2 separate regions of the Homo sapiens genome follow, and region 2 is linked to region 1. The links come from fine-mapping of genetic effects on gene expression. Tissue or cell type: nasal epithelium. Region 1 holds a variant in brackets; the other region holds the start of a gene. All regions are shown on one strand. Distances are between the middles of the regions.

Region 1 (2,795 bases):
TAGGACACCAGCCAAGAATGGGGACCATCATTCCAGACCAAGGGAGCACAGTCTGGAGGCACAGATCTGGGGGAATGTCCATCACGGAGCTGGCTCCAAGACAACTTGAGAGATCCAACGTGGCTAGGGGAGCTTAATGAATATTAAATTTTAAGGAAATGTGTGTATGAAAAGCAATTTAAGAGTATAATTATTTTCACAAAGATCTGTAATACTTACTTTTCCTAAACAACAAAATTCCTAGTTAAAGAGCATTCATGCCTCAAGATAATATCGTAAGTCAAATTTAGTAACAGTTATAGTAATCTTTTAACATTATAAACCTTTTTCACTGGTAATATCTCAAACAAGGCTTATGAAAACCTTATGATGAGGCACAGAAGTTGATTACCTCCATTTCTTTTTCTTTTCTTTTTTTTTTTGAGCCAGAGTCTTGTTCTGTCGTCCAGGTTGGAGTGCAGTGGCATGGTCTCGGCTCACTGCAAGCTCCGCCTCCCGGTTTCACACCATTCTCCTGTCTCAGTCTCCCAAGTAGCTGGGACTACAGGCGCCCACCACCAGGCCCAGCTGATTTTTTTTTTTTTTTGTATTTTTAGTAGAGATGGGGTTTCACCGTGTTAGCCAGGATGGTCTCGATCTCCTGACCTCAGGATCCGCCCGCCTCGGCCTCCCAAAGTGCTGGGATTACAGGCGTGAGCCACCATGCCTGGCCAATTACCTCTGTTTTATAGGGTTGGAAACTAAAATTCAAGTTCAGTGGCTTGGTCTAGTATATGGTTAAGCTAGACCTTGAACTTACGCTTTTGCTGAAAATATCATGCTCTTTCTACTACCAGAATTTAGGGCCAATTCAAGGATTTTCATAAAATATCAGGAAAATGCTTTCAGGGAGCAATATATCACAAATGGCATCAGGAAGAAATCTATATAGATTTACTTGTGCAGTTGGCAGAGAGAATAAGGTCCAGGAGAGCAGACGGAAGTCAGCTATCAGCAAACTGAAACATCTCAAATCCAGCATAATGATTTCCTTATTGAAGGGAGCCAGTCGAGAAGGAAAGACCATCTTCCTTGTCATCCAAGGTCCAAACACATCTCCCTCTCCAACCCTCACCCATCACCCCATGCCAAATTCAATATACCTAGAAGCATCCTCCTCTTTGAAGTGAATGCTTTAGCTCAATGCCATTCGCCTGTGTAGTAAACTGGCAATCGTGCTTTGCTATGTTTACATGAGAATTTAGCCACCACCCCCAGATTCTAGTGCCATCCCCAAGGCTGGCATAAGTTAGCATAAGAATGGGATGATTATGAATTGGAACAAGCAGAGATTGCTAAGTATTTAAATAAACAGGTTAAGTAATGTTAAGGGA[T/C]TGGAAAACAGTGCAGGATAATGAAAACAATCTACAAAAATAATTAAAAATACATTTTAAAAATGGAACAAAAGAGATAATGGTGGGCAGATTTGTCAATCTGCTTTCACTCTTAAAAGAAAGTCCATTCTCCACTGCCAGCTGTGTTCTCCAAGAGCAGGGCTCTCAGAACTTGGAGCATTCCCTTCAATAACAAATGCAATCCTCTAGCATTAAACGCTCTTATTTGACAACAATGCAACGGCCTCATCTAATGAGGAAATGTCCCTAGCTTCTAGGTGAAAAGCAGTGATGTAGGACCAGAAGAGGCAGGACTGTAAGAGGCAGGGGATAGGGGCAGGCAGGATAGGATGCTGTGCTGGATCCAAAGCTATTGTCCAGGGTCAAAGGCTGAGAATCAGCTGAAGAGTCCTAGGTAAGCCCATGTGAAGGGGACTGAGTTCAGAATAAGGCAGGCAGGCAGGGGAGGAATGGCAAAACAAAAGAAAACAATGTTATGCAGTCATCACTCCAGGAGGCTATGAATCCCAACAGGCAGGCTGAGCAACAGAGGTGAGGAACCCAGGGTAAGAACCACCAACACTACCACCATCACCACCACCATCGTTGCCATCTCCACCACAGCTACCATCAGCACCCCCCCATTTATACCAATACCACCATCACCATTACCAACATCACCACCATCACCGCTTTACCACCATCGCCGCCACCAGCACCCTCACCACTACCATCATGGCATAATCACTACTACCATTCCCACCCTCCTCTCCGCCATCACCAACATCACCATCATCACCACCAGCAGCACCACCACCATAACCATCACCAAGCCATCGTGGCATAATCACTACTATCACTACTACTGTCCCCACCCTCCTCTCCGCCATCACCACCATTACCGCTACTGCCACCACCATCACCACCAGCAGCACCACCACAACCGTCACCACTGTCACCACAGCATAATCACTACTACCGTCCCCACCCTCCTCTCCACCATCACCATCACCCCCTCACCATTACCACCTCTATCATCACCATCACCCCCTCACCATTACCACCTCTATCATCACCATCACCCCCTCACCATTACCACCTCTATCATCACCATCACCCCCTCACCATTACCACCTCTATCATCACCATCACCTTCACCTCCACCCAACCCTTACCAAGCACCATCACCATCCTACAGTCACCACTATTGCCCCATCTTCATCATCACCACCCCTGCCCTGACACCCAGGACCATCAACAGCACCATCATAACCACTAATATCACCGTGATCACCACAACCACCCTCACTGCCATCACCAGTATTACCATCATCACTCTAGGATGTTCCCCCAACAAACAGAGAAACAGGCAGAGGCTTTAAAATGTCAGACTTCCCACCAGTCTCTGAAAGTGGAAGGCAA
Region 2 (2,795 bases), 25 kb after region 1:
GAAAACTGAGGACCAATTTCCTGTGCCAAGGTGAAAGGCACCTAAGCATTGAGCATTACCAGCGATCCGGAGATCCCGAGCACAGACAATTCGCACTAGAACCACGCAGGAGAAAGCAAGCACTAAGAAAACAAACACGAAGTGAAGGCGCACCCAGACCCGGAGCTGAGTGCTGGCCTTCGTTAATTCCTATTTAACCAGATACAGCTGTCTTTCCCTAACTAAGCGAATCCAAGAAGCGGTCCTAAAGTGAGAGTAAACTTTCTGCTCAGTGTCTTTCTTTTGACCGGAGCTTGACGATCTCTCCCAAGATCCAGACAGATAAGAGTATTCAAATTAGGACAAAACAGAAGAAACCACTAAATCTCAACTCGAATCAAACCAGGTCCCCGGCCCCGAGGGGTCTGGTTACTCTAGGTCGAGTTATACGAATTAAAGACATTTCTCCACGCACCAAAGATACAACCAGACATATTTCCAGCTCTTAAATTCAACGTCCCTGACTTAAGCCAGGTCCCCACCGAACTGTCCACACACATGCACAAACTAACTTCCCGGGGCGGTGCGGAGACGCCGGGACGCGAAGACGTCAAGAGCCCAGGCTAGAGGGAGAGGGACTGAGCCCGAGCACCGGCCGAGGCCGGGAAGAGACGCGCGCGGGCTTGACCCGCAGCTCCCGCACGTGTGGGCCACGGCCGGCTCCAGGACCCCCGCGCCGCGCGCTCGGCCTCCTCCCCATCCTGGTCTCCCGCCTCCTTCTCATACCTGTCTGAGGATGAAGCTGGTCGAAGTGGTGCTGCCATCGGATCTTTTCAACCTGCTCCTCCGGGTTGTGGTGCCTCGGGCCACCTGGACTCGACACACGGGGGCCAGAGAGAAGCCGGTGAGGACCGCAGCGCAGAGCGGGGCGACCACCCCCGGCTGGAGTCCGCCTCCGGACCCGCTCCCTGGGGTCCCCTAGAGCCCGCACCCAAGTCTCCTCCGCGACTCCCAAATACAGCCCCCACCCCCACCCACCCACTGCAAGCCTCGACTGCTGAAAAGATGCTCGAGAAGAGCAGCCCGCAAGCACCCACCACATCCATTAACAAAGACTCTCAGGGTGCGGGGTCCGAGTCCCCGGCATCCGCTGGGGGAGGCTGCGGGCTCCGGAGCGGGAGCGCAGAGACCCGAAGGAGGGTGAGGAGGAGGAGGAAGAGAAGGAGGAGAAAGAGGAGGAGCGGGAGGAGAAAGGGACGTGGAGGAGGGGTGGGGGGAGCGGGGCCGCCGACTCCCGGGACTGGGGCCCCGCACGCCCGGCACGAAGGCGGGGCGCGCTAGGGCGGCGGAGGAGGTGTGAGGAAGGAAGAGGAGGAAGAGGAGAAGGGGGAGGAGGGGGCGGTACCTGCGAGGTGGGGGAGTGCGGCCCGTCCGCGGTCCCGTTCTTGGCGTAGGAGGAGGAGGACATCGTTCAGAGCCGCCGCATGGCCAGCCCGTGTGCGGTGGGCGGAGGGGGCTGGCCCCCGAGGCTGGGCTGCGGACGGAGGGGGAGGGCGCAGGACTTCCCCACCCGGCTCCAGGACCCGCGCCGGCGCCCAGGCTCCCTGCCCGCACTTCGGAGAGCGCGGCACCTTAAAGGGACCGAGGCGCTTCCCCCGCGCTCGCGGCGGGGTCCCGGGGAGGGGGCTTCTCGGAAACTCGCCTACCCGAGCGGATTGGGAGAAGCGCTCTCCCACCTAGCAAGCGCTTTACATCAGAGCTTCCAGAGGATGAAGGGAGGGGGAAATCTGGGATGGGGGTGGCAAGATTAAAATAGTCTGCACAGTTTAAAATGAGACAAAGGTGGCACGGTTCATGAATCAGGACTTGGGGACGGAAGCTGGTGCAGTGTGGCGGGAATGGGAAGAACCGAGCGGGTGTGTGTGTGTGTGTTTGCTGCACTGGAATTTTAAAAGGGCAAGAGCAGAGCCACCTTCCGCGACTTCACTCATCAGCCTAATGTGTAAGGCATGGGGTTTTGTGGCTTGCTTTTCGTCCGTGTTTTTGTATTGCTTTGGCAATTCTGTCCTTAGAGCTGCGAGTCACACACATCCAGGCAGCTGTGAGAAACCCAGCCAGCCTGAGTCTGACGGGAGATGCTGCCCCGCCAAAGACCAGTATGTCCTACGGAGTTTTGAAGGTCATGTTAGACCTGCTAAGAAGCAAGAGTTGGTCACTGTGCCTCCCATTTCTATGCGAATGGATATTTTCAAGGGGGAGAAACTCATCCTTGCAACCATACACAACGTTTGCCATTGGTTTCCTCCTGTAAATACATACAAGAGATTAATTTGTGATCAAATTAAAAGAGAGGGATTGCGGAAAGGAAGAATAAGTGCGAGGTATTGACAGAGGAATAAGAAGAGGGAAGAAAAGTATATGCAAATTCAAAAATAAAGAGACTCCGTTTAAATTAAAATATACTTACTATCTCAAATCGCTAAATCAGCTTGCATTCTAGGACTTTATGTTTATGGACACAACTACCATGCTTGTTTTAATAATTGCTTGGCTTTATTGAGGTCCTGGTTATATCTTACCATCCACCAGACACTTCCTTTCCATTCCTAATCCCTTCACTTAATCCAAACCTCTGTAACAATCTTATAACTAATGTCCTTGCCTCCAGGCTTCCTGGTGCATGTGCACGTATGCACATGCACACATACACACGCAGAGATTTCATTCCATCTACACACTACAGGCAAAACCATTTTCCTAAAATATCTTGCCCAAGTCACTCTTCTCTAAGATAAAGTCCAAACTCCATGGTCCAA

The links.
Region 2: it holds the start of CACNB4, and the variant in region 1 is fine-mapped to the expression of CACNB4 in nasal epithelium (TOPMed, PIP 0.94).

The regions. Positions count from the first base shown.
Region 1 is chr2:152,072,237-152,075,031 of GRCh38, forward strand. All of the region lies in intron 2 of CACNB4 (calcium voltage-gated channel auxiliary subunit beta 4), which reads right to left. Among named protein-coding and RNA genes, the nearest start is that of CACNB4, 25 kb to the right of the region's middle. The variant T/C (reference allele first, on the strand shown) is at 1,374.
Region 2 is chr2:152,097,565-152,100,359 of GRCh38, forward strand. CACNB4 (calcium voltage-gated channel auxiliary subunit beta 4) reads right to left here and starts at 1,480. Exons shown (of 14, transcript NM_000726.5): 1 at 1,385-1,480; 2 at 766-849. The coding sequence starts at 1,447. RefSeq lists a silencer at 1,389-1,678.